Linked DNA regions of Homo sapiens: regions 2 and 3 are each reported to be linked to region 1. The links are microRNA targets in miRTarBase. Many come from high-throughput screens and were not tested one by one. Region 1 holds a microRNA gene; each other region holds the end of a gene's coding sequence.

Evidence for each region. The annotated mature microRNA hsa-miR-4528 reads UCAUUAUAUGUAUGAUCUGGAC and lies in region 1 at 6,397-6,418, shown strand. An mRNA with a match to its seed (bases 2 to 7 or 8) in the 3' UTR can be bound and repressed. Matches are read on the target gene's strand: a 7mer-m8 pairs with bases 2 to 8, a 7mer-A1 pairs with bases 2 to 7 and ends in A, and an 8mer does both.
Region 2: the mRNA of FBXL3 is a reported target of hsa-miR-4528. Seed matches in the 3' UTR shown: 7mer-m8 at 4,313-4,319.
Region 3: the mRNA of SESTD1 is a reported target of hsa-miR-4528. Seed matches in the 3' UTR shown: 7mer-A1 at 7,025-7,031, 7mer-m8 at 7,431-7,437, 7mer-m8 at 8,479-8,485 and 7mer-A1 at 9,130-9,136.

Annotation. Positions count from the first base shown.
Region 1 is chr18:53,230,760-53,242,456 of GRCh38, forward strand. MIR4528 (microRNA 4528) reads left to right here and starts at 6,342; the gene lies at 6,342-6,431. All of the region lies in intron 12 of DCC (DCC netrin 1 receptor), which reads left to right.
Region 2 is chr13:77,002,817-77,009,690 of GRCh38, reverse strand. FBXL3 (F-box and leucine rich repeat protein 3) reads left to right here. Exons shown (of 5, transcript NM_012158.4): 5 at 1,903-4,431. The coding sequence ends at 2,546. CLN5 (CLN5 lysosomal BMP synthase) reads right to left here. Exons shown (of 4, transcript NM_006493.4): 4 at 4,574-6,874. Among named protein-coding and RNA genes, the nearest start is that of CLN5, 14 kb to the right of the region's middle. RefSeq lists an enhancer at 257-326.
Region 3 is chr2:179,102,637-179,114,333 of GRCh38, reverse strand. It overlaps SESTD1 (SEC14 and spectrin domain containing 1), which reads left to right. Exons shown (of 18, transcript NM_178123.5): 17 at 1,489-1,610; 18 at 4,306-11,697. The coding sequence ends at 4,435. Among named protein-coding and RNA genes, the nearest start is that of CCDC141, 58 kb to the right of the region's middle. RefSeq lists silencers at 6,326-6,526, 7,606-7,806.

The sequences.
Region 1 (11,697 bases):
TTCCATAGATGGAGATTCAATTTAGAATACTAGATGAAAACTGTGTTTCAATCATTCACCTGTATGATTGATTTTTCTCTATAGTTGATAGTAAATTCAGTGATTTTTTGGAAATATGTATGTGAAGGAAGGATGTAAGTCTGTGACATCATGCAGTTTGAAGTCTACTTTTCCTTGGGGTATTATGCAGATATGTAGATTTGCCTATTATTTTCTTTAATAAAATTGGTGTTTTTTTTTCTGAGACTATTTTCCAGGAATGTAGTTTTGATCTTAGAATTGATTTTTTCCTCCAGACTGAGGAGGACGCAGATGTCAAGAAGTTTCCTATGGGATATGGCTTGACAGAGGGACACACAACAGGAGTCGGAGGTTACAATAAGAAAATATACTTACTCTATGACATGTGGGTCTTGTAAGGAACTGACATTGATGGGAAGTGATGCTTTTTAGCCAAAGGAAGAAGTATCTATCATGCTGTCACATCAGATTCGGTTCAAACTAAGCAAACATTTGTGTTATGGTACTATTCTTGGGAAATATATTTCTGAATGTGCTCTTGGCTCTTTAGATGAAAAGTCATAAATGATCATAAAATACATAAAATGGTACCTGTCATAATAAGCAAATGATAAAATAAATTTATGCTTATTATAACTATCAACATCTGTATGTGTAAAATAGATAATAAAGCAAGTGTCTGAACAATGCAGCACATACTAGCTTCACCTAATGCAAGCAATCAGCTATTCTTTGCCTGTCTTTGCAGAAGATTGTGACCAATGATATAATGAGTTTGAGGAGGCTGTTTTTATGATTAATTCATAAATAAGTTAATCTAGACTTATTTCAGGTCTGGGTTTTACATTTGATGACTCATTTTCAGAGCCCAGAAAATAATATTTAAGGGAGTATTAATTGGATTGAAACTTTTAACTGTGTGGGTGTTACACAAATTCTATTTAATCCTCAGTGTGTTAGATTAATTTTCCAGTATTAACAATTTTAATTCATTCTACCTTTATCAGTCTTCAGCCTCTTCTTATCGCATGCACAACAGAAAAACAGAATCACCAAAAATGTATCTTTAGACTGTAATTCTTATTTTGCTGACTCAAAATATGTGCCAAAAGACTGATAAAAGTCTGATTTTCCAATAGTTCATTTGACGTTTGAGTCCTTTTACGTCATCTTCAAGCTCATGCTTGAACTTTTCTAATGACAGGGATATTTTTGTCTTTAAGCAACCATTTTTGTCATATGTAGGTCTAACTTTCAGAAATGTATATTCAAAGTTCTGTCCCTCTATAACGTCTGCTCATTTGTCATAATTGTTTCCCCTGGGACTATAAATACATCTCATGAGTTTAGTGACTTTCTCTTGCGGCATGACTTTTAATATTTGGGGATGTCTGTCAAGGGCCCCCCTCCCCCTTCTCTCCACCAATGCTTCTCTTCTCCAAGTAAAATATTCTTAGTTTCTACAAATATTTCTCTTTGCTTGTCAGCTCCCTACTTGACTTGTCATCCTCCTCTGCATAGTTGCAAATGTCATGTGACTATTAGACATCCCTTAAGAGTACCTCTCTCATCTTAAGCACAGCATTATTATTCAGATGTGCTACAATCACATTGATGTTGTGGGTGGTCACATTATCTTATGGACTTATTATGGATCTGATTTTCCATGAAAACCTATAAGTATTTCATGAATGATGCTGACAAACTGCATGTCTTTCATTCTCTTCATGCCAGGCTCTGTCTGACTCACATGCAAGACCTCTTCATGTATCTTTGTTACATTTTATCTTACATTAACCCCACTGCTACAACCTCTCAGGGTACCTTGTGTCTTCATGCACTTATTCAACATCAATAAATGAAGGTTAGTTGTACACCTGGAATGTGTCCGGCTAAATCGAAAATGCTAATTCTGTGGCTCAATTATTTGACACACCATTCCAGCAATCTTCTCTACCACTTTATTTCATCCACCATACCCAGGCCATATTTTAATCTTGTTTTCTTCTCCTCGAAGCGACTTTCACTAAAAACCTTAAACTTCAAAACCATCCTATATGACAGCCCCTGTGTTCATCTGAATCTCTAATGTCTCCGCTCTCAATAAACTGATTAGCTGATAAGCCTCATAAACACTTTCAACTTGCTCCTTTCTTTTTTTTTTTTCCCCAGGTATTATTATTCTTATTTTCTCACTCTCCTTTTAAAACTGGACCTTGTGGTTGATCAAGTGACTAACCATATTCTGCACCCTCAAGATTTATTTTATTTTTGCCTTTATACTATCATCATTTATCTCATATAGTCCTGATGAACTACCTTGCCTGTTCTTAAGGTCAAGCTAATCAGTGCTATGGGAGAAAATCCTATAATGGCTGAAAAGCATAGATATGAATGACCCTAAAAAAGCCACTAAACCTTTCTACATGTTGACGTTCTCCCGTTCTTTACATGTGTCATCATACCAGTTATTAATCCAATTCACCTGTAGTGTCCTCCCTATTTCTTCATGTAATTCACAAAAATAATTCAAATATTCTGCTTTACCCCAAAATACACATTTTTTTGCCTATATCCAAAAGGTCAAGTAATATGCAGGGATAGATCTAGCTCATTTTCATTCAAACTAAAATCATATCAAGAAACAGTTTTCAGTCTTTCTATACACTTTTTCCCTAGAATATTTGAAGCCGATTTTTTTAGGTAATTATTCCAGGTTTCCTTTTCATCTTATTTCCTGCGGTTTCAAGGTCAACATATTTATCATATTTTCATTCAAAGCCATAACAAAAATGAGTGATAAACAGAAAAATGATTTTCCTGCTTGACTTCCTGTTTATTCTGCTAAACTATAATCTGATTTTACTTAAAACTCTTCCGAGTTACCTTTGTGAATAATTCACCAAGCATGTGAACCACTGCTTATATAACTTCATGATTGTTATAAACACCTTTTTTATGTGGCATAGTTCAAGGCTCGAACCAAAAGTGAGATACAGGAATGAAGCAAATATGTTTGTCACTCTTTCTCATCTCAAAATGTATTGGCCAGGCCAGGTACAGTGGCTCAAGCCTGTAATCCCAGCACTTTGGGAGGCCGAGTTGGGTGGATCACCTGCGGTCAGGAGTTTTATATCAGCCTGGCCAACATGGTGAAACCTTGTCACTACTAAAAATACAAAAATTAGGACCAGGCGCAGTGGCTCATGCCTGTAGTCCCAGCACTTTGGGAGGCCGAGGAGGGCAGATCACCTGAGGTTGGGAGTTCGAGACCAGCCTGACCAACATGGAGAAACACCATCTCTACTAAAAATACAAAATTATCTGGGCATGGTGAGGCATGCCTGTAATCCCAGCTACTCTGGAGGCTGAGGCAGGAGAATCGCTTGAACCTGGGAGGCGGAGGTTGCAGTGAACTGAAATCGCACCATCGCACTCCAGCCTAGGCAACAAGAGTGAAACTCCATCTCAAAATAAAATGAAATAAAAAATACAAAAATTAGCCGGGCGTGGTGTTGGTCACCTGTAGTTCCAGCTACTCGGGAGGCTGAGCCAGGAGAATCGCTTGAACCCAGGAGGCAGAGGTTGCAGTGCGTAAGATCACACCACTGCACTCCAGCCTGGGCGATAGAGTAAGACCCTGTCTCAAATTAAAAAAATAAATAAATAAATAAATAAAATATTGGCCAGTCAGGTTTTTTTCTGCTTCAAGACCCCAGATATCACTCAACCCCTGGCCCAGTGTCTCACACAAGTCATAAGTAGGCCCTGTGAAAACCCTCACTCTCTTAAACAGTGACTTAGGGTCACGTGTTTAAAAGAAAATTAGTTATAAAATCACCCAAGCCCCTCATTTTCAAGACTGTGTAAAATATAGGCACATCCAAATCCCTTGGCAATTTAGTGACAAACCTGAAATCTGACTCCAGTTTTTTACCTAAACCAGTGCTTACTCTGGATTATATCAAAAGAAAACACTGAGGAACACACATGTGGATTCTCAGTGAAGTGATAATGCCTTTTAATAGCTAGATCTCTTGAAGAAGTAACAATTTGTTCTGTAATTATTGATTTAAAGCTGAAGCTTTTGATGACTAGATGGTTTGTTCCTTTCTTCTTCTCTTCCTCCTTGTAAATATATTCATTTTATCACTTACACAAGACAAATATGTGTCACAAACGGACAGTCATATAATTTTTGTTTGAAAAACCTCATGAGGATGGGTGCCCTCTAGATAGCCAATTTCCATTCTTTTCATTCTAATGTTAATGATGTTATTTAAAGTTATTGGATACACAGCATCAAATGTCATTATTTCAAATGACTTCATGACACAGGGTTCATTGTGTAAGGAATATCAAGTAGAGGTTCTCAGGTGTTGTCCCTTTAAAATGCAAGGGGAGAAATGCAATTGCTATTTTTTATTTAGTTACCTAATGCCTGCCCATCATGTCTTTTTGAATTTGGCCCAATAACTTATAATTAAAAGACTCATTATCCCTGCTGGATGTGGGCACAAATTCACATTATTTCCATGGAAGCCTGTCTGCTGTCTCACTTTAATGAAAATTTAAACCCTTTAGAATGACATGTGATGCTTGGAATTATTTATCTTTTGTCTGAGTAGAGTTACAAGAAGAAAGAACTCCTAGAAAAATAAGTCACTATTTCTTTCTGCAGATTCTTGTCTTCCAAGTAAGCATTCTTTTTTGTTTGTTTCTGGAAAGATTGACAGAGAAAACTATGAAAGTATCAGTTAGAGCAGAAAAAAATTATGGACTCTCCCACCTGTGCACTTTTGACCTGGTATTTGGCTATCTTTTGTACATGTAGTAAAATATACATAACACAACATTTACCATTTCAACTGTTTTTAAGTGTACAATTCATTGACGTTAAGTATATTCATAGTTTTGTAACCATCAACATCATCCATCTCCAGAACTTTTTCATCATCTCAAACAGAAACTCTACACCTCTTTAACAATACATCGCCGTTCCCCTCTTCCCTAAGAAACTGGTAACCACTATTCTACTTTCTGTCTCTGAATTTGCCTATTCCAAGCACTTCAAACAAATGGAATTACACAATATTTGTCCTTTGGTGTCTGGCTTATTTTGACATGTTTCTGAGATCCATGCATGGTATTTAATATTATGGTAAATTTTTTGTTAAGTATAATTCCATTGAATGGATACACCAAAGCATCTTTGATGAATATTGGATTGTTTCCATTTCAAGGATATTACAGATAAAACTGCTGCCACACTGTTGGAAAAGGCTTTACTGGACATAAACTTTGTCTCGTGTAGATATTTAGAAGTAAAACTACTGAATCAGAATTTAGATGTATGTCTTACTTAATTAGAAATAATTTTCCTAAATGATTATAACATTTTGTATTCGCAACAGAGGTATATGGAAATTCCAGTTGTCCAATCCCAACCAACACATGGAATTTGTTGACATCTTAATTTTAGCAAATCTAATAGGTATACAGTTACATCACCTTGTGGCTTTAATTTGTATTTCTCTAATAACTAAAAGTGTTGAATATTTTTTCATATATTTGACCATTTGAAGATTCTTTTTTGCACATTACTTTAGGTTGAATTGTTAATCTTCTAAATTATCAATGTGTAGAAATTCTTTACACATTTTAGGAAAACATTTTAATTATATTTTGGTATTGTTAACATTTTCTACAAATTGGAGGCTTACCTCTGTAAGTTGGAGGCTTTGGTATTGTTAGTATTTTATACAAATTGGCGGCTTACCTTTTTACTTTTTTAATGCTGTCTTTTGATGAGCAGATGCTGTTTTTATTTTGTTAAAGTCAGAGTTATTGATTTTGACCTTTTATGATCTACTTAAGAAAGTTTTGTTTACCCCAAGGTATAAAGATATTCTTCTATGTTTTACTAGCTTTTACATTTAGGTCTGTGATACACCTTGAATTAATTTTTGTGTATAGATTAAGGAAGGGGCCAAGGTTATTTATATAGGTATCCAGTTTTGTCGGCACCATTTATTAAAAGAGTTCTCTTTCCTCATTGAATTATTTAGTGCCTTTCTTGAAAACAGTTGACCATATATGTATGCACATTTGTGTCTATTTCTGGATCTTATTCTGTTCCATTGATCTATTTGTTTATCCCTATGGTAGTACCATGTGGTCTTATTTGCTATATCTTTATAGCTCATCTTGAAATCAAGCAGTATTAAGTACTCTAATATGGTTCTTTTTTTTCCAAAATGGAATGTAACTATTTATATATGTTTAAAACCGTTACTCTCCACAAATATATATATATTATATATTCTACTGAGAGTACAGATCTTTATATATATGATCATTATATGTATGATGAGATCATTATATGTATGATCTGGACACCCAGTAGAATCTAGCTCATTAGATTGTCCTTCACAGTTAAACAATGCAAAGCCTATAGAAGAACATTATGCTAAATATGTGGGTGTGTGGGTGACTGAGATAAAATAGAAAAAAAGGCTAAATGTTTTTGGGGTACCTGCTATCTGCCAGTATTCTGCAAAGTGTTTTATATATCTTGGCATATTTGAATTTAATTTTCACAAAAATTCTGTGAAGTAGTTATTGTCTCCATTAGTGGATGAACAAAGTAAGGGTTAGAGAAGTAATTTGTTCAAAATATTTAACTCGAATTCCTTTCATCTTTGATGGTCACAGCCAATCAGTAGTCATATTGAGTGCTCATGCAGGGTGCCTGCTTTGTGGTTGACAGCTGGATTTTCAGCTAGTGACAGGTTTGCTATATTAACCTAGTCAGTTGTCACACTGACTAAACATACAATTTAGAGCGTAGTTTTAATAATTCTGTGACAACTCAGTATACCTTCCATAAAAAAATGCATCTAAAAGTACATTATTTATAAGTGAGTTCTTGTGAAAGAAATCAAATTATAATTCCCATTGTTTTACAAAATCATTATTGAGTATACAAAGTTAAATAAAAATAACATTTATTTCATCAAAAAATGTCTGACAAACCGAGCTGCTGGCATTAAGCATTACTAGTTGTGAAATTATGTGTTAGTCACAAAATCAATTTAAATAAACAACTAGATTATCATCTTGCCACCCCTGAAAACAAAGACCTTAGCACAGAATCAGATTTAATCTTCAAATCTATTACTTACCAAGAAAACCTAAGAACACAATTTGTTTGAAACCTTTAAACCTATTACTTTCTAAAAGAATCTCATGGAGCACTGTGCTTGACCTTCACAGGATAAACTTTGTAGATGTCAGGGGTTCAAAGCAATTTGTTTCTTATATTCCTTGAATTTATCTACTATATGTTGCTGATTATTTCCTTCATGACAGCTGTTTTTACTTATGACACACAGAAATGCATTACATTTTGGAGAATTGCACTTGATTCTACTCTTCCAATAGATATTCTAATTTATTATCTGATACGTAGTGTTGGGTTCTAGGTGAATCATGACTCCTAGAATTATTCAATGTGAACACTTTATTGATGATAGATGTTACATTAACATATGGTAGTTGTGTTCCATAAGACTGTAACTATTTTAGAAATATGTTCACAATGAGACATTAATCTTTTAGTTATGCATATTAATCCTTATAAAGTTTTATGATATACACAGAATTGAAATATTTCCATTTTCATTTAAGATGAAGAAACAAAGAATCAGAGATATTGATATTTGTCCAAGCACTCACACATTTCAGGGGTCCCTTTTTCTTATAAGCTTTTTGTGTCCAAGCTCTTATAAGCCTTATGTGTCCAAGCTCTCACACATTTCAGGGGTCCCTTTACTTAGAAGCCTTATAATACTAGTAAACACTGAAAATGTAAAGATATATGAGAAGTATGAGAAGTATCATTGCAACTAAGGAACTCAGAGCCTAGAGGACTGAGACAAGCAGCCAAACATGTAAAAGTGAAATTGAAAAATGCTGTCATACAGGTATACTAAGAGGAGAGGAGAACCTCATTGTATGGGTAAATTTTCCTACATAAAGTGAACCCAGAGCAATCAGACAGCTAATATTTATTGAAAGGAACAATGTCTGTTATGTGTCATGTAAATTAGCCATACCTAGTATTATTTAACCTTCACAAAACTCCAGCAAACTATCGCAAGGACAAAAAACCAAACATCGCATGTTCTCACTCATAGGTGGGAATTGAGCAATGAGAACACCTGGACACAGGAAGGGGGACATCACACACCGGGGCCTGTTGTGGAGTGGGGGGAGGGGGGAGGGATAGCATTAGGAGATATACCTAATGTAAGTGACGAATTAATGGGTGCAGCACACCAACATGGCACGTGTATACATATGTAACTAACCTGCACGTTGTGCACATGTACCCTAGAACTTAAAATATAATAATAATAAAAATAAATAAATAAAAAATAAAAATGAAAAAAAAAAAACTCCAGCAAAGTCCATTACTGTTCTCCATTTTATAGTTACAGAAACTGGAGGGAAGAAAAACCTAAAGAATAGAAAAGATGAAATAACCCTTTATGGTTCCTCCCAGGTAGATCATTTTGGGGTTTTTCAAACCACAGAGTCACTGCACCATGAGTTACTTCAGTTTTCTTCCTTGTTTCCAGTTAATCATATTCTCTGCTCTAAGCTCTTTAGTGATAGCTCATGTCACAAAAGGCCAGGATGAGAGATGATGGTTGTGCTGATAGGTGAGTGAATTCACGGAGCAGAGACAGAAATGAGGGAGAACGCACCCAGAGAAAGGTGCACAGGGGCTTACATCACTGGGCCCTTTGATTGGTGTTTTTGACATGAACACAAAGAAAAATATTTGAAAATGTCAAACAAAACCTCACTGATTTTCTACCTTGAGTAGAAGAATTCAAATGTTTTGAATGCTTAATATTTGATCCCAGGAATCAGAGAATTGTGGGAAAAGACCTCCAATTTTTCTTGGTTTCAATTCAAGGGTGTTCAAAATGATATACAGTATTTTACATGGCCTATTCAAAAAATTATTTTATTTTGAATAACCAAGGGCTGATAATATAATTCATGCCTTTTATCTTAGCATGTAAAAGTGCTACATAAGTAGAATGGTAGCATAATACACATTTTAATCAGAACAAGGGCAGAGCAACGAAGGCAATGCTTTTTATTTTTGTTAGAGGAGAATGGTGAGAAAATATAAAAAAACATTTAGACATTCAAAATTCTAGTTCTAGAGTTAAAAAAAAAAAAAAAAAAAAAAAACAACAAAACACTTTTTCCCCAATGTGTAATATGCAATCAAAAGCACTCATGCCTCTACTGTTTTCCAGAAGAATAAATATGAAAGTTATAATTACTATGAAAGTTATAATTACTTTTATATTAGACTAGATTTTTTTCTGGAGATGTTTTTAAAAGGGGAAGAAAAATCAGATAAACTTATAGACATGCTCATATTTAAAAATAAATGAAAAAGCCACAAAAACAGTCAATAGCAAGCTTCCATCTTTACTCCTTACACTGAATATTTTCCCATTTCTGAGGCTGCCTCAATTCATCTTATGTCTTATCAAGAATTGTGGGATCAACAATCATCTCTGTGATTGTCATAGTTACAATAAATTTTATATATGAAAAGCAGAGGAATAAAAGCTACCAATCCTGGGTTTACCACTGGAAGGATCAGAAGGAGCTGTCCCCTGTTATCCAGGTAGGAATATTTGTAGACAATGTATTAAAAAGTGATCTTCAAGGCATAAAAGGTCTTGGTGTCAGACTCAATATTAAGTCCCTCTTTTCATTTGCTTGACTTTTTATAGCTAATTAACAATCTAGCCATTGTTTCCCTTATCTGTAAAATGAGACTAATACTAGGTTCCAACTCTCATGAGATTGTCGTTGGGACTAAATAAGATAATGCCTCTAAATGCACAGCACCTAGAAGAGGTTGTCATTATCATTTTTATCATTTAATATTTCCATTTTTCTCTGAGGCTATGGCTACACTCACAAACTGGCTTGTCAGATTCTATTTTTAAAAAGATTGCATTTAGTTGATCCATTTTTCAGATATTTGTAATAGTTACAGATAACATTTTCACTTTTAGAGAGTCTTGTTGTACTGTTTGCATATTGTTTAAATGCATAGAAGTATTGTTAGGGCACTAGCCTATGCTCTTGGTGCAGAAGAGCCACTGAAATGTGCTGGGGAGTTGGAAAGTCCTCAGCAATATTACTTACCTTCTTGGTAACCGAGATCTTTGAGCTTCTGAAAGGACCTTAGTTCCCATAAACAATTTGACCCTGAGGCTGGGAAGTAATGTTATTCCAGGAGAATGGATGAGAGTGATCAAAGGCAGAGAGATGAGGAGGTGTAAGGTGAAGTCTAAAGGTGGGGCTTGAGAAGGTGGCTTGGTATCTTAAATTTGTGACTGTCAAGGGCTAGGCTAAGCTGGAGAAATCTGATCTGCTTCAGGTCAGAGTAGCCATTAGCTGATCAAGAAAACAAGCCGAGATGAAAGTGACAGTCAAGCCTTTAATCACTGAACTGCAATTGTACAAGGAAGAGGTTAACCAGAGAACACACCCATTCTCCCCAGTCCTGCTTTCCCCCACGGAGCAGCACCTGTGGAGGGTCAAGTGGACCAACATAGACAAGGGGTTGTCTCCCTGATGAGGGAGCTCTGAACCAAAGCTTCCCGCAGTTTCATGGTCCCTGGGGCTGGAGAGGTGGAGAGGAAAGAGCTAAGAATGGGAAATTACTGCACACTGAGAGTGGAGAAAAGTGTCTTCAAGGTTTTCTTCTGCTTCCGCCATAAAGAGAACCAGGCAGAGGTACCTCTGCTTGAAGGCCCAGACAAAGAACCTCTGAATGATGGTGCCTGGGCTGGAAATACAGATGTGCATAAGAGCATGGCCAGCCAGGGCGAATGAGTCCTTGCCTGCAACTTCCTTTGGAGGTTGCAGTGGCTGCGCACTAAGTCTGGTATGGGGAAGGCAGGTTCCCTCTGTGTGATCTGCCAGGCAAAGCCTTTTTGACTGACCATGGCCAGGTCTGGAAAATCACACATGGAGTTTTAGCTAGAAGCCAGACTCCTCAATAGAAGGTAGTCCTATAGATCTCCAGTAATAGTATTCAATCAGGCAAAGAGGAAGTCAAATTGTCCCTGTTTGCAGATGACATGATTTTATATTTAGAAAACCCCATAGTCTCAGCTCAAAATCTCCTTAAGAAGAGGACTTCTTAAAGCATGCGCAGTCTTTTTAAAAAGTTTTCCTGCTTCTCTTTAGTTGCAACAAAATTTTTCAAACAGGGAAGAAATGGTGGGCTTGTAGTAAAGAACAAACAGGAAGACTGAGTCTTAATCAATCACTGGTAACAAAGGGAAACTACAGCAGCTGCAAATTTCAAGGGAAGACAAGTGTGTTAAAACATTTGATTTAGAAAGTAAAGGAGAGCTAATTGGCTAGTGTAGACCTGTAAACAACCTACAAAAAGACCTATATGCTTAATGATATAAGTTTCCAATGGGACAGCCAGGAAGATATTACTTTGTAGTTGTTCTAATTTGCATTTAGGACTAAATGAATTGGCATACATAAAACACCTAACACATTATCTGAAACATAGTATTTGTTCAATCGATATCTGCTCCATTTTCCCAAGTA
Region 2 (6,874 bases), not on the chromosome of region 1:
ACTGTCTTCCACAATGGTTGAACTAATTTACACTGCCGCTAACTGTAATAGCGTTCCTATTTCTCCATATCCTCTCCAGCATCTGTTGTTTGCTGACTTTTTAATGATTGCCATTCTAACTGGCGTGAGATGGTATCGGAACGGAGATGTGCTTAGGTTACCTTGAGTAATTAGAGTATATTTCAAAGTATATAAAATAGCCGGGCGTGGTGGCGTGTGCCTGTAACCCCAGCTACTTGGTAGGCCGAGGCAGGAGAATTGCTTAAACCAGGGAGGCGGAGGTTGCAGTGAGCCAAGATCACACCCCTGTACTCCATCCTGGGTGGCAGAGCGAGACTCCATCTCAAAACAAAAATAAAGTATATACCTACTTTGCGGAAAACAGAAACTTTGTGGTTGCTGAATACTGAGACATTACTCTCTTTTCTGGTGACTCATTCTGGTAATTCAGTTTATCTCTTCTGATAATTCTAATGCCTATCTTTTCCCACTGTTATAAAGCTATGGCTTATTGGTGGCCTCTGTCTTGTCATTTCTGAAGCAGTAGTTAAGTGCATGGACATAAGAGTCACTTAGCCTGTGTTTGTATTGCAGCTTTGCTATTTTTAGCTAGCTGTCTCCACTTCAAAGTAGAAATAATACTTTTCCAGATTTTTAAAATTATTTGTGGGATAACATCTAGTACCTGGCACATCATACTTGTAACAATAAATAGATGAAAATACGGTGTATGTTTTCTTGTTCCTATCCCTGTTTCTAAACATAAGGAAGAAATGGATTGAATGGGTAACTTACCAGGTAATATAAGGTGCCTCTTTGGGGTAGAATTCTTATAGTAGGCCGGGTGCAGTGGCTCACATCTGTAATCCCAGCACTTTGGGAGGCCAAGATGGGTGGATCACTTGAGGTCCGGAGTTCGATACTATCCTGGCCAACATGGTGAAACCCTGTCTCCAGCAAAAATACAAAAATTAGCCAGGCGTGGTGGCATACGCCTGTGGTCCCAGCTACTCAGGAGGCTGAGGCAAGAGAATTGCTTGAACCCGGGAGGCAGAGGCTGCAGTGAGCTGAGATCACACCACTGCACTCCAGCCTGGGCTACAGGGTGAGACTGACTGAAAACAAAAACAGAACTCTTACAGAGAGATCAAACATTGACCTTTGCAATGTCATCTGTTGCTAGGATGATAGTTTTGGTAAGTTATAAAGCATGGCACCCTAAGTATAGGGAATCATCTAAGGGAACTGCTTTCTAGGTATGTTAGAGCTTCGAAAGTCATAATGAATATTTCCATTAATGTGAATTGAGTAGTTATTTTTGACATACTTAGTGATATCTTGGTATTTTTTCTTATAAGTTTAATAAGCTGCTTATATGCTATTAGCAATTAGACTTGATCATTTGATAGAATCTTTAGTTTGTAAATGTTTTCTTTCATTACCTAATTCATAGTTTTATATGGTTCTATCTTACTCTGTTTTTATTAGGATTAGGTTTTGAACTTCAAAAAATGTCCTTTGGCCTCCGTCACAGTGGTCCTGTAATTACCTAACCTATAAGTTTAGTGTTAGTAATAACTTTTTAAAAATATGGCACTGTCTGTGCATTACTGGAATGCCCTAACCTTAGTGATGGTGTATTTTTTAAATGACAGAGTTAACTGAGTTTTATTTCTTTTTAATAGATGGGATTTAGAATTGGTTTCATTTTCTTGTAGACAAAATTAGTAATAGATTTTAAATGTTTGTTACTTCCCTTCTAATTCAACTATGCACATTTTAAATTATATAGTTTTGTGGTAAGGGAACTGTGACAAACTTTTGTGGGACATGTACTTGATTGAATTTTTCAACAGATAAACTTTTACAAAAACTTGCAAATAATTTTTTTTTTCTTTCAAGGTATCCTTTGTGTGGCTGATCAGTGTCACGGCTTAAGAGAACTAGCCCTGAACTACCACTTATTGAGTGATGAGTTGTTACTTGCATTGTCTTCTGAAAAACATGTTCGATTAGAACATTTGCGCATTGATGTAGTCAGTGAGAATCCTGGACAGACACACTTCCATACTATTCAGAAGAGTAGCTGGGATGCTTTCATCAGACATTCACCCAAAGTGAACTTAGTGATGTATTTTTTTTTATATGAAGAAGAATTTGACCCCTTCTTTCGCTATGAAATACCTGCCACCCATCTGTACTTTGGGAGATCAGTAAGCAAAGATGTGCTTGGCCGTGTGGGAATGACATGCCCTAGACTGGTTGAACTAGTAGTGTGTGCAAATGGATTACGGCCACTTGATGAAGAGTTAATTCGCATTGCAGAACGTTGCAAAAATTTGTCAGCTATTGGACTAGGGGAATGTGAAGTCTCATGTAGTGCCTTTGTTGAGTTTGTGAAGATGTGTGGTGGCCGCCTATCTCAATTATCCATTATGGAAGAAGTACTAATTCCTGACCAAAAGTATAGTTTGGAGCAGATTCACTGGGAAGTGTCCAAGCATCTTGGTAGGGTGTGGTTTCCCGACATGATGCCCACTTGGTAAAAACTGCATGATGAATAGCACCTTAATTTCAAGCAAATGTATTATAATTAAAGTTTTATTTGCTGTAGTTCTGATATAATTCTACTATTTTGTGGCACAGAAATTTGATATCTTCAGTCAGTATATGTAAAGATTGTTTATCGGAAGACCCATGAATGAGTTTTGGTCAGAAAATTCCACTTGTTTCCTTAGTGTAATAGCAGTCATATCTCCGAATTTTTTTTAATGTGGTTCGGATGTGAAATAACCAGTTATACGTATTAAACAGTTTACAGTCTAAAGGAAACAAAACCTATATGTTATAATATCCAAGAAGTACTAATAGGTTTTCTGAAATGTTATATTCTCTATGCATTTAAAAAAAAATGTAAACTTGACATTTTAGGGTCTTCAGTTACACATACACCTGTTATAAGGTGTTTAATATAGCTCAGGAAAGTGAGCATTTTGTGAGAAAAATGAATATATCATATCTAATGGAAAAGATTGGATGAATGTTCTCAAATGTTACAAAGCTGTTTAAAGAAAAAGGTATATATAAGTAATCAGAACACTTAGAAGACTGATAGATGTCACACAGTGGTATTATAGAAGGATAATACAGAGCCAAGATCAAATTAAAAGACAATAAATGGAACAGAAGGGAGGCAGTGTTTAGCTTTGTATAAACTTTTAGGTTTGCTCTGTAATCTGCTAAACCATATACATTCTTTTGTGATATGTTATTATGTATGTGGCACTTGAGGCACTGTATGTAAAGTAAGGAATGCTTTACTAGTTCTCCTTGGTTTTATCTTTGTTTAAACTAGCTTTAAAGTATTAAACAATAATTGAAATGAAAAGCTTACCTATTTTAAAAAGCCAAATTTAAATAAATATAGAACTTTAAAATGTTTATCAGTTGTTTCCATGAAAGAATATTAGTTTCCAGTAAATTTTAGTGATGGCTCACTCACTTTTCTATTTTGGAATTACATAGTTATGTAAGTAAAATTTTTAAAAATCATAAAGGGAGCACCATTGTACAGTCTAGCATAAACAGCAAATTTTAAAGAGGACATATTTAAGTTCATAATCATATTTTTCAGTAAATATTGCTCAGTGAACTGGAAAACTTTAATAGAAAAATGTCTGCAGTTTTGTGATTGTTAATTTGGTTAAACCGATATTTTATATTATTTAAGTTAGGTAACATTTTATATTACTTTCATATGAATAAAAGTAATCCATGCATTGTAGAGTCTATAAAATGTTGAGTTTTAAAAGATGATATAAACTTTGATGCTGGGCACTAGTGCTAGTAGATATTACTACCCTCCTGAGGGAAATCAGAAATGATTTAACCCCGGTGGAATACATTAATTCTTAAAGCGGCTCTTTTCAGTGGTGTGACTTTTAGATTGTGTCTCAGTGGTTGAGGAAGCTAACAGTCTTAGATCTACTTTTAAAACGGATGGCCTTCTTAAGAATAAAGCAAAAGGTGATTTTCTACATAATTTTTGCTTTCCAAAAGTGATGATATGCTCTCCTACAGCAACATATGAGAAGAAAAAAGGCTTATCTAGATTCGAAAATTAACAGCAATTATAGTAATATATCCCCTCCTTCTAAATAGTAAAAAGCTCTGATTGTACAAGAATTACCTGTGCTAGTCAAGTTGTTGTTTTTCCTTGAACAACTTTGGAAAAATGGATTTGACAGTACATAATCAGTTCTACTAACCAAAGCTTGTATTTGGAAATTTACTTTTTGTACAAATTGAATTATATAATGCTTAAAATACTTTGTCACTTTATAAGCAAAATGCATAGTACTTAATTTGTTTATACTGTAAAGTATATGTTAAATGCTTTTATCACTTTGAGAATAAAAAGTTACTAATGCTGTTGTATTTTACTTTTTAAAAACTACACAAACATTTGACTTTAAACTTAAAAATGTTTCAAATCCATATTTGATGGATATAATATTTAATATTAAACAATGTTTATGATAGACTCGCCTTTTTGAAGATACAAGGTTAGGCTCATGGAATCTATTCTTGAAATAAGCTCTGATGCCTAAAGAAATAGGAAATTTAAAACCTACCATGAAATATAAATTTTTAAATTTTTATACAGAAAATAATAGGTTCTTTCTGCATTCAGAATGAGAACTTATAAAACAGATTATTTAGACATAGAATCAGTCTTTAAGGGTCCTTGAACCCAACCAGTCTTTTTAGAGATAAATGTCTTTATATAAATTAGAATAGTTTTTCAACTATTGAAATTATTTTCATTGTTTTACTGGCTTTCAACTTATCTTGGTAATTTGGGCTGTTGTAACCATATCAGAAAAAATAGGTATGATTGAAGATTAAGTCAATTTAGTGCATTTTAAGAACTTTAGGCTGAAAGGAAGACGTTCATGTGAAGAAGGTTCAAGCCTCCACTAGGTCCTTTAAAATTTTTTTTTTTTACACTAGGTCCTTTAACACACTATAATTTCTACCCCACACATAGATAGTAATGAGCTTTGCACAGACTCCAACCCCAGTTTGTGGGGCTGGTTTTAATTTTACCAGGCAGGAAAATTCCAGCTGCTTGCTGACACCCAACTTTAAAAAGGGCACAAAGCCTTTTACTCCGAAAGTGAAGTAAGAGCTTATCCTTAGAATAATCAGTCCAATAAAAGGATAAATAATCCTAACTTGTTTTAAGTAGGAGACAAAATTTTGAAAGGAAGGTTTGAAGAGCAGGAAACCACTTGGATAATAAAGGGTAAATATGACGAAGATGCTGGAAACACTTTGGCCAGCCTGTTTGCCTTTGTGAACAGGGAAAAAGCATGTGTGTAGTTTTGGAACATCACTCTTTGTATAGCCTGCCAACTATTTAAAAAATAAAACATCTTACAGGAACTATAATTCCAGGTAATTCATTAAGTGCCACCACAGCAGACCATAAAACTGGATAAGACTTCCTAAGACTTGATTTTTTTCTCCAATTTTTAAGGAGCCACCAATATTGAGGGTTCCAAATAAAGTTAGTAGGTTTCTTCACTGTGTTTTCCTCTACATGCAACAATATATTAGATGACACTTTGTGGGTATACTTACTTAACTAATTTTGTGCCAGATTAATGAGGAGATATATTCACTCTAAAGCCCTAGTCAGACTAAAAATGTATAAATTTTATACATCTACAACATTTTTTTGAGACGGAGTCTCACTCTGTTGCCAGGCTGGAGTGCAGTGGTGCGATCTTGGCTCGTGGGAACCTCCACCTCCTGGATTCAAGTGATTCTCCTGCCTCAGCCTCCCAAGTAGCTGGGACTACAGGCATGCTCCACCACAACCAGCTAATTTTTGTATTTTCAGTAGAGACGGGGTTTCACCATGTTGGCCAGGCTGGTCTCGAACTCCTGACCTCAAGTGATCCGTCCACCTTGGCCTCCCAAAGTATGTGTTAGGATTACAGGCATAAGCCACCGCACCCAGCCTACATCTATAACAATAGCAAAATAGAAACTGCATTTAAGTTGTACTTAAGTTATAATTAAAGTAAATCACATTAAGTCATATTGCTCAAAGGGCAGCAAAACTTAATTGGCAGATTTCTGCGTGGCTATGTTTTGGTTTCTCAACTACTATTTTGAAAGCATGTTCTTGAATCATCTTCACCTGAAAGCTCTACATCTTGTAAGTAGAGCTGACAGGTTTAATTCTTAAGAAATACTTTTGTAAATGTTAATGCTGTCTGTGCTGTAGTTACCTGACTTTATGATGCTTTCTGTCTTCATTTAATTAAGATTCTTAGGAACAATGAAAAATCTTGAATGCTTTTTTTTTGAGACGGAGTCTCGCTCTGTCGCCCAGGCTGGAGTGCAGTGGCGCCATCTCAGCTCACTGCAACCTCTGCCTCCTGGGTTCAAGTGATTCTCCTGCCTTAGCCTCACGTGTAGCTGGGATTACAGGCATGGACCACCACCCCTAGCTTTTTTTTTTTTTTTTTAATTTTAGGAGAAACGGGGTTTCACCACATTGGCCAGGCTGGTCTTGAACTCCCGACCTTCAGTGATCCTTCCACCACCTCAGTTTCGCAAAGTGATAGGATTACAGGCGTAAGCCACTGTGCCTACTCAAAAATCTTGAATGCTTTTTTCACATAACTATTAGAATCTTGTTTAAAAGTTCCAGGTACAGATATCCTCATTTGTTTTCCCTGCATAACCAAGTTCTTTGATTTGCAGTTGACCAAAACTTGGTACAAGAATCTTTGTCTCTTCAAGGCAGTTCTGGAAATCCAAAATCCTGTAGTTTTTCCAGAGCAATTTCCTGAGTTTG
Region 3 (11,697 bases), not on the chromosome of region 1:
CTAACTTGATCCATGGAACAGATGTTGCAAGGAACCTCAGGAATTAAAGTTTCTATCTGAGTTATGAAGTACATCTGTTGGGAAGGGTCCATAGTTAACTCATTCTCAGCTGGTCATTGAACTCCGTAGATCAGTGTTTGATTAACATGGGCCTAATGATGATAAGTGGAAGTATACAAAATAGTGTAACTTGTTTATCTACTGATTGTTTCAATGAGAATTTTTTATTATTATGAAGTATACTATTAACATAGAAAACATACCACAAGTATTCTGTGCAGTGAGATTTCATAAAGTGAACACACCTGTGTACTCAGTGTACTGTTCAAAAAAAACAGAACATTACCAGCACCCAGAAGCTCCCCCCACCCTGTGTAATCACAGTACTGCTCCCCCAATCACCTCACTGTCAAAGGGTGACAATTGGCCCAATGTCTAGCACCACTGATAACTTTTTTTTTTTTTTTTGAGACAGAGTCTCACTCTGTTGCCCAGGCTGGAGTGCAGTGGCATGATCTCAGCTCACTGCAGGCTCCACCTCCTGGAGCTTGTTGTACAAACCTAAGTAAAGCCCTTTGTTATCAGATATTACTTTCCTCTTGACTGTATTCTATTTTATACCATAAGCATAAATATAAATAACCACAACTATAAGCAAATTGTATAGTATAATGATTAGAAAAATATCTAAATTAAATCTTGAGTTTTAAAATACAAAAATGTCCGTTCATGAGTAATGCTGAAGTAAACATGATTAGATAAAGTGTAATGCAAAAAAAAGTTGTAAAAATGAATACTTTTTATTCTCTCTCTCAAATTTTGCAGTTCTTGTGGTTTAATTTAAATGGTAATGGTTAGGGTGGAGTGAAGAACAGTATCTCATCAAGGACTATAGAGATTACCATATTTGAATTATAACCTAATCATTTTATGGCAGTTAACTCAAGCCAGCAGATCAGTTGTTAAATATTATCATCTAGCTGAGTTGTCACATCAGTTATTTATTTGTACTCTTTGTTGTTTTTTATTTATATAATTTTTCATTTGTAATGTCTATATGCTCTTTGAGAACACAGTCTATACCTCCTTCACCTTCCAGACTGCTACATAAACATAAACTGTTCAATAAATGGTTACTTAATATAAATGAAAGAATACTTCTTAAGGACAGATTGAACTTATTTTCCAAATAGTAGTCTAGTTATTTTCTTTCTTGGAAATCACCATATTGTTAGTAGGAATTATGTATTTCATTTTGTTTGTTTGAATTTCTTGAAGAATTTTGCCAATAATAGATCAATCTTATATAGTGGTATACCTGAAGATGCTAAGAACAAGAAAATGCCTTTAATCTACCAAATTTGTATGAGCTTGATTCCATTTCTGTGTCTTTCTTTTCTCTCTTTTTTTTTGTGGGGTGGGGTGATCCTCTGAAACTGCAGACCTGTCTGTGTCTCTTGATTGATGTTGCTCTTTTATTTGTTGCAGATTTTGCAGGACTGTCCAGAAGAGCCTGAAGCTATTAATGATGAGGAGCAATTTGATGAAATTGAAGCAGTTGGGAAATCACTTTTGGATAGATTAACTGTTCCAGTAGTTTATCCTGATGGGTATGGGGCATGTTCTTATAATTTTATTTTTTATTGGTGTGGTCTTAAAGTGAAATCATTAAAAGAGGAAATCTATTCTTTAAAAAGCCAAGTAAATTAGGTTTGGTCCACATCTTTAACTCCTACGATGAATTAGTTTAAAATGAAAAGAAATCCACACCTCTTAGCCACAGTAATGGTACTTGCCAACAACAGATGCGTTACTTCTTGACAGCTTGTTGTAGAATGATCATTGACTAGATTAAGACACTGGGTTCTAGCCTTGGCTATGATGGTGGGGAATAGTGTGACTTGGGGCTTCATTCAGGAAAAGGAAGAGGGGACAAGGGATTGATGTTTAGTGAGTTCACAATATATGCCAAGTACCAAGTGAAACATTTCACCTTCATTACTTTTGACCAAAGAGGACCAAACCAGTATGATTATTCCTGATTTACAAATGAAGAAACTGAGGCCCACAGAGATTAAGTAAGGCTCTCAGGATTTCACAGCTTCTAAGAGTTAGCATAAACTTACAATCTCAGGTATGTCTGTGTGGCTCCAAACCCATTCCCTTTGTACTGTGTTATATGGCGTTCTAATTTCTTTATGTGTGAAGGAATGGGGTCCTGATTATCTTACACCTTTCCATTTCAAATAGTGATAAAAATATGAAATAATCTGATGCAAAATAAATGGATCAGGAAAAGAATCAGGAAGAGCTTCAGCCGGGCGTGGTGGCTCACGCCTGTAATCCCAGCAGTTTGGGAGGCCAAAGCGGGCGGATCACAAGGTCAGGAGATGGAGACCATCCTGGCTAACACGGTGAAAACCCATCTCTACTAAAAAGACAAAAAATTAGCTGGGCGTGGTGGCGGGTGCCTGTAGTCCCAGCTACTCGGGAGGCTGAGGCAGGAAAATGGCATGAACCTGGGAGGCGGAGCTTGCAGTGAGCCGAGATCACGCCACTGCGCTCCAGCCTGGGTGACAGAGCAAGACTCCGTCTCAAAAAAAAAAAAAAAAAAGAATCAGGAGGAGCTTCATCCCTGGTGATTTAGACCTGATTCTTACTGAAAATAATTTAGAGATAATCCAGAGGATATTTAATTCAAATGATAGAGTAACCAAACCAGTAAATAAAAATACAAGTACCTTTAACGTTGTGGTATAGTGTGATGAGTCTGTGCACTCTGGAGCCAGAGGTCTCAGCTCTACCACTTACTCACTGTAACACCTTGGGCAAGCCACTTAACCTTTGTGCCTCAATTCCCTCATCTAAAAACTGCCATGTAACACTCATACCTTCCTCAGGTTATGGGGGTGTGGGAATTACCTGAGCTAAATAAGTATAAAGTACTTAAAACAGATCTGACACATAATAAGCACTGCTACTACTGTGCCATGATCTTCCAGTGATTATTTGGGATTGATATTGAAAAGATGGCATTTTATTCCCTTGAAATAATATTATTCATAGTCTATACTTACGTTATCTCAAGCCCCACCTAAACTTGAACAATCAGAGGTAGCCTAAAGTCACCTAAAGTTGTATTACACATCTGCAATAAAAGACAACAAAATTCAGCTAGTAGCAGAATTACAGGCGTGCTTCTGGTTGTTCCATTCCAGGATCCCTTACCCTCCCTGATTCCTACATTTCACAGCCAGTTGTCACACAGTCAGTCTCCTGTTCTACCCATGTCAGCCTAGGAACACCTCTCCCTGGTATGCTTGCTTCAGCTTCTCGTCTGTGTTTCACAGATAGTCCATGTGTCATTTCCTCATCCATCCTTTTAAGATAAAAGAATGTTAGTACTATATATTCAAAGTTCACACCCACCTTTAATATTTTGGAATTGCTGTTTTATTCCACTTTATATTCATATTAAAACTTATGTATATCTCTTTTAGGTATTTTGCTGAATTAAATATTTCCCAAAGTTGTGTGTAGTGTTTTCCATAATTATTAATATAATGGTAATCTGTTTATGCCATGTATAGTTTGTTTGACAGGTTAGACAGATTTCTCTTTTATACCTTCTCCTGGTAAAATAAAAGAGATTGATGGTCTCTCTGGATTCACTGCTCAAAGACCTAGGTTCAAATTCTGGTTTTTCCCTGGGTGACCTTGCTTACATCATTTAACTTGCTAGGCTCCACTTTTCTGATCTGAAAAATAAAGAGATTAACCTGATAATTTCTAAGAAATCTTCCAGCTCTAAAAATATTCTGTGATTCTGAATACAGTATCTTTGAGAGTAGAATAAAATTAATAATTTTATCTGTTAATGTACCAAAAAATGTCATAACATTAAAAAGAATATTTATTTTGCTTGCCAGCTCTATAGACAAGTGGTGTCCCCAGCCGGTAGCACTCAAGTACCTGTATAAATTTTATGTTTGTGCATCCTTCTGGACCCACATATTTCCAGTGTTTCATTGTTCAATTTGTTGCTATTATCATAACTACACATGATATAACCTTTATACCATCAATATATTTTTCTCATCATGTCTTAATGTATTTTATGCCATTTTAAAAAATGTTTTTCCTGCTGAATTTCCTGCTCAAACAGTATGATCACCGATGAACTGATATTTACACATAGGCTATCTCATGTAGATTTTTTATGGTAAATTTTTGCTTCTATTTGTATTCACTGCAGTTAATAGATTTGTATTAATCTGAGGTTTTTCTGTGTGTTTTGATTTTTAGAACCGAACAATATTTTGGGAGTCCAAGTGACATGGCTTCTACTGCAGAAAACATCAGAGACAGGATGAAACTAGTTAATCTCAAAAGGCAGCAGCTGAGACATCCTGAAATGGTGACCACAGAGAGCTAATAGCTACCAGCTACCTACAGATTTGCAGTTCATAATCCCGCATGTTGTCAACATACTACAGCATTAGCCACCACACCTTAAGATGCATTTCACAGCCAAAATAAGTCTCATTTCTTTTCATGACACATTTCTCTTTACATGTTAACACCTTGCTACTACCAAGGCATAATTACTTAACATGCTTCGAGGCTGTAGATTCCAAGTATCTTAAAAGAAGGAACTATAAACATTGCACTGAAAACTTGCTTTAAAGCTTTACCTGACCTGTCAGTTTGTAGACAAACAACTGATAATAAGCTTTGAATGGTGCTAATAAGAGTAGGAATTCTCTCTATTAAAAAGAAAAAAAAAAGTTGCCCTTCCTCCACAGGTGATTTAGTAAATTTAGACAGTAGTTAAACTCTTGTTAGTAGACAGTGGTGTCCTCAAAATTTTACTTTGTAATTCTTCAGAATTGATTATTTTTATTGTGTCAATACAGAGAAAGCCTTTCAGATCTTTGATATATCATAGTCATTAAAAGACCTTTTCCTATTTGTATTGATAATGTATTAAAAGTTGTTTGTGCTTAATAAAAGACTTCTTTAAACATCTTATTTAATTTAGTAGTTACATCCTATTTCCAAACATGAGTGCCTTATTTAAAAGGGCATTCTTAGGACTGTGAGGATGGTTTAATATTTGTTTTTTCATGGTGGTTGCATGTATTTTAGACAGGAAATACATATGTAAGCATGTGTATATAATAAATAAGCATGTTTTATCATGAAAAATTATTGTGAACAATTTAGATCTTTAAGAACTTATTAATAATGGAATACTATTTCTAATTTTTCTCTTTTTCAACTTGAAAAATATTCTCAAAATTATTAACTACCCTGAAGATACTTTGTCTTTAGGGGAGGAGGGCTGAGGAAGAAGGCATACATAATTACTTCAGTGTAATCCTTTATATCAGAGTAATCTTTCAGGAACTAAAATAGCAATTGTTAATAAAATTTAGTTTCTCATTATAGTCTAAAAGCAAAATAAATTCTGAAGTAGTCCAATAACAGAACTGTATGACCCCTTTAGAAATAAAATTTATCATGAAATGCTAGTTCTTTTAAGTTTGTATTAAGTTTAAATGGTAAAATGCATATAATTTAAATTTTATGTATTTTTATTTCAGAACATTTTTTAAAATATTAAAAATTATTTTTTAGTCTTGTAGTCATTACAAAATTATAAACGAGTTGTATACTGGTTCCTTTTTGAGGTCTACAAACATGCTCGTGTATCTTCCAATGCAAAAAAAAAACCCCTCCCTTTTAACCTGCTAGTTTTTCCAGCCTTCTTCACTGACTGACAGACTTCTTGGAGAAATCCACATCCAGTGCCCCTACATCCTCATCACTCACTACTCAGCACCTTGCAGTCTGGTTTTACACAGCACTCTACTGAAACTGTTCTTTTGAAAGTCAGCAATGGCCTCCCAGTTACCAAACTGAATGGTTTTTTTCTCCGTCTGAATCCCTTACCCTTTTCTCTGCAACATTTACACCATTGAGCAACCTTTCCTAGACAGTGTCTCCTTCCTTGAAGATGCTATCCTCTGAAATAACTGTGAGTACAGTCGCATAACCCTAATTTAAGATGTGCCTGCTGAACATGTGCTCTCTCAGATCCTGTCCTCAGAATGCTTTTGGCTCTTTTCTCGGTATCTCATCCTTAGAGTTTTTATTTTATACCAATGTTCTGGATTACATACCTGGTCCAGAAATCTAGACTTGTACTTCTTTTTAATTGCCTAGTTGACATTTCAACCTTGATTAAAGATTGACAATATTTATCACCTTTTCCTCCTGGAACAATTTAGGTTAATGGTGCAGCCTTTTTTCCTAGTCAAACATGCCAGGAAGTTCAGGGCAAAGTTCAACTGCTCCCTCTTGTCTTATGTGGTCACTGCTTCTGAGAACATCCAGGAAGTTCTTTCTATACTTGAATCATCTTCTCAGTCCTTTGGGGCTTTACTGCTATGAGTATGAACTTTTGTGATTATTTATTTCAGTCTTCATGATGGTGCTATCACATTCTACAGTTGTTTATGTCTGTACCCAGTAAGCTCTTTTGAGGGAAGGAATCTTGTCTTCTCCTATTCCCAGTCTTGCTCATGCATAACAGATGCCCATTCCTCCTAAATATGAATGCTGTATTATAGGCATTAGTAATAATCCCTGTTACATTGCAGTCTGAAGTATGTTTTAAACATACTTTTTTAAAGTTAGAACTGACTTACAAGTGAATCTATTCTTAGATTCTTAGATACTAACTACTTTAGATATTTAGTTATACTCAATAACTAAATATCAATACTCAATATCTGTTTCTTCTGAATTTCAGAGTAGTTAGAATGTTTTTCTTAAGACTTTGCTAGAAAGGAACTGGTTTGTTAGTAATTCTGCCATCAACTCATGGAGTTATAATTGCCAAATGAGTTAATTTTTATATACCTTAAGCTATCTTGCCTACAAAAAGTAAAATAAGGCAGGATTCATAAATGTTACTTGTAAATTGAGTGTTTCACATGAGGCCAAGTATGATTTTAACATAATGAATATCATTGCTCCTCATCTGTAAATTTGCTGCTGCTTTCATATGTGTATCTGTACATAGAGTTATGAATGAAAATCCAGTAATGCCCTAAAGCAACTTTCTTCCATAGGGTCAAAGCTCACTTAAGGTAAACGTGTGAAAAAAGTGACTGCAGTGTGTTTGAAACCACAAGCTGTTTCTATGTCATAAATTAACATCAGCTTGCAAGTCTCTGAAAGAACCACTCATTTGTAATTGGTATATATGTCACAACCTCCCACATTCCTTTAGCCCATCTCAGGGAATTATTGAAACGCTGGCAGGGTTAGTTTCATTTTGTTTTGGTTTTTTTGGGTTTTTTTGTTTGTTTGAGGATTTTTTTTTTCTTTTATCATTTGTTTGCTCCTGTGTAAGCTTAATATATAATGGCAGTTTGGCATCTGTTCTTCGCACATGTCTAACCCAGCAGAGTTATGCAAAAATGATGACTTCATTTTAGGTCAAATTGGCTTTGTTCCCAGTCCTCATTGTTGGTCACTTTGTTCAGTTCTGGTGACTCATTGGTGATGTTGATGAAACTGCTCAGCCTGCCAGCTGGGATATTGATGGCAGGTCTAGGCTTCATTGTTAGGTAGAAGATTGAATACTTCTCACTTTATACAAATTTACATTGGCTATTGCTCCCATGTGTTAGCTAGTCTTAACATGTTTGTTATTTCGTTATCTTATTAGCTGACATACGGAGTGGTATTATTAGTGTCGTACTCCTTAGCGTGAGCATGACAATTAAGTTACCTTACTAACAGTGATGAGTAAACCATACTCTGATCTAAACCCATTGTTACCAATGATGTGATTATGAAGTTAGCTGAATCTATGGTCTACATTTGAAGAAATAGTTCAGAATTCTCTACTACATTGTAAGTTACTTGCTAATAGAGATTGGGCATTATTATGTACTACTCCCCTTCTCACATCCTACCCAAAGTACACAAGGCCGTAGTAAAATACTGTTGCTACTAAAAACTAAACATACTGTGGTTGCTAATGTCCTTTACATCTTCAGCCTATAGGGAATGGTACAGGCAGAAACAAGCACCATTAAGTATATTATCATCAGTAGTGAGATCTGTATGATTAGGATATCTTTGCTTAAGCCCCCAAAGGAAAAATTCTCTAGCATTAAAAACATGGCTGGAACATAGCTAAGCAGTTAACCTAATTAGTAGACTTATTGTTAACGTTCAGTCCTAAAAATGAAAAGCTTCAGTTGGGAGTAGAAAATATACTATGCTGGTATATAGAGCAACAAATACCCTGATGAGATAAAATGAAGTAGAAACTTACCATTTGACATTATTTGACTTTCATACATGCTACTGAAAAGTCTAGGTTTAGCTAAGAAGCATAAATAATGGCAGTACTTGTAGAGGAAAGAACATACCAGCTAAAACAAGAACTGTAATGAATATAATGGAAAGTGTTTGGAGCTTGAATACTTGGCTTCAAAAATCTGGCTTTGCCATTTACTGTTAAAAAAATATCTGAGAATTTATCTCAGGCTGTAAAACAGAGAAGTCATACCAATTTCAAGAATAAAATATGATATAAAGAATTGTTGAAGCCAAAATATCCAGAAATAAACAGAATGGAAGGTATCATTGCTATAATTATCTTTTCAGAATAAAAAATAGAGTATTCTTTATCCTTTCTGTTGTCTCACATGACAAGCATGGGATGGTGAGGAAATGGCATATTGCCTATGTTCGCCGCCCCACCCCCTTAGTTCCACCACCCCTTCACCGTCACCCCCAGTTCACTAGTGTATCAGAATGCATCTTCAGAATTACACACTGAAGATACAAAAGGTCCAGTTGGTAAGCTCATCAGTAAATAACAAGGCTTTGAAATCTGACAAATTAGCTATTTTTGTAGGAAGATAATAGAACAGCAAGATGGAAGACAAGTGATGAGTATCATCTGTTTTGAGGTTGACAAGGTGTGACATAACCCTGTTAATAGACACAAGTAAAAGAAAATCATACTAGGATTGGATATTAGTGAGCGAGCACCGACCAGTAGAAACAACAACAGCATAAATCTGTTATTTAAGTATCCCAATAATGAGGTTAAAAAAAAAAAAAAAACAGAACAAAGCATGAAAAGACCACAATTAGTGCTGGCTATGCTTAGAGAGGAGCAGTCTCTTGGTAAACTCAGGCAGTGATGATGAACAGAAAATGGCCGACTGATACTGTAATAGAGGCATAGAACTAAGGACACTCCGTGAGCTGGCATAAATACAGGGGAGTCTTTAAGACTGAAAAAAGTTCATGGGTATGACACTTAATATGACTCAACATTACTGCAGAATTTTAAAGCAAACATGAAAGCTTGAGAATAAACACTAGTCCCTCTACTTCAAGAAAAAGCAGAACCTGTACTAGAACATGAAGAACTTAGAGATCAAAAGACAGCCAGAACTATGATGAAATATTTTGAAAGCAGTGGGCACATTTTTAAAGATTTTTTTTGGAGAACTTTATGAGGCTGTATGTATAATTCCTATATGTAATTTTATAGGAATTCTTAACTGAAAGTAGTTATCAACTGCTACTTATCAGGAGCAGTGTTATTAGGGATTTTAAGTTAGGCATGTAGAAAACTTTCTGACAAAAGGGCTATTGAACTCCAGCCAGTTCCCAGTGAATCTCCAGGAGGCACCTTAGAAGTCTTCACAAGCTGAATACCATGTCTTTAGGGTGTCCAAATGCTTCTGTCTTGGGGGAGAGATGAGAGATGACTGGGTGCCTTTCCACTCAGAACACAGTAGACCACTCACTATTTATGACCAAGCCTCACTTCTTTTCTATTACAGTTACAGATTCTTTTTTAGTCTGGAAGTTAGGGTAAATAAAATTTGTATGTTTGATTTTTCTCTTAGGAATGTTTTCTCATCTTAACTCTTATGTTATCTTTATGGCCAACAGATTTGCTCAGAATATATCATCAAAATATATGTATTGTATTTTGTAAAGGTGAAAGGATCGAAATACCACTTTGACAGTTATAAACCAGAGTAGATTTGAGAACTGATTGCTCACATCACACTTACGAATAGTCTCAGAAGCCTTTAAGAGAAACTTACTTCTCAATGGACACTTAGAAGAATTTGATGATCTTACTGTCATAAAATCAGTAATGAAATTCTCAGCAAAACTATTTGGTAAACATTGCACCCTGTATTTTTACCCAACATCTTGTTATGAAAATTATCAAATACATTAAAAAGTTAAAATAATTTTATAGTGTACTCACTACCTAGATGCTAATTAGCATTACCTATGCTTGCTTTGTCACATATCCATTCATCATTTCATATTATTATTTGATGCATTTTAAATTGCATATCATTAACTAGAGTTCATTGTTGGCTTTTTTACATAAAATTAGCATGCAATGAAGTGCATAGAAATATGTGTTCACTGAGGTTTGGCAAATGCATATAGTGCTATGGAAATAGGAAACGTTATCACCACCCTAGAAAGTTTCCACACTGCCCTTTCCAGTCAATTCCTGTCCCTACTTGACCCTCAAAGGCAACCACTGTTCCTTTTTCTACCATAAGATTTTTCTGTTCTAAAACTTTATATAAATAGAGTCACGCAACATGTACGCTTTTCTACAAGGCTTCATTTTTTTATTGCTGTTCTTTTTTATTGCTGAGTAGTATTCCACTGTATGACAATATTACAGTTTGTTTTCTTAATTTCCTATTATTGATAGATACCTGGGCTGTTTCCAGGATTGGCCATTATAAATAAAGCTGCTATGACCATTCTTACGTAAGTCTTTGTGAACATAGGTTTTCATTTCTTTGCAGTAAATTCCTTGGATTAGAATTGCTGGGTCACAGGGTAGTTTTAAAAGAAACTGCCATACCTTTTTCCAGTTCAGTTTTATTGTGCCCTGTATTTTGTATTTTGATGTGCATAAAGGTGTAAACTATTTTTATGATCCATATTGAAGTATTAGAAGAAGTGAGTTTGGAATAACAATGGCATTGTTCATGGTCAAGGATGACAATTGGAACTATCTGAGGAAAGCAAAGACCTGTCTGCCCCAGACAGCTCCTCAAGGGGTTCCTATGCCTGAAACTTTAGCAATATTTCACTCCTTGAAAGGTTAAAGCCCAACCATGGTGATATGTTAGCTAGAAGAAACAGCACTGGTTTGTTTATGTTACTAACTTTCACCACCCGTTTTCAGTAGGTAAAGTAAGACTGATCATTGAACAGAAAAGGTTATTTCTGTGATGAGGTTGAGGGGGTAGTGGAAAGCATGTATTGCTAGTAAGCCCCAGGTACAGCTATGTGAGAGAGAGTCACCTGGACAGGGAAGTCCCCCAAATGGTGGCCAGAAGAGCAGAAAACGGGGTGGGAAAAATTCTACCTCACAGTTTTGCATAGGGGATAGCTATGCTTTTACGGGACATTTTAGCGTTTAAAAATATTTTCAATATTGTCTCTTTATTCAATACCACCCAGCTGTAGTTTTTTCACACTCTGATGACTCTCTTATCCACTCTTTTACCTCTCCCAGCTGTTCTATTACATACAGCATTCACCTGTATTAGTCTATAGAATTATAATCATCTGTGTGTTTCTAATGCTCATTTTCAAAAATAT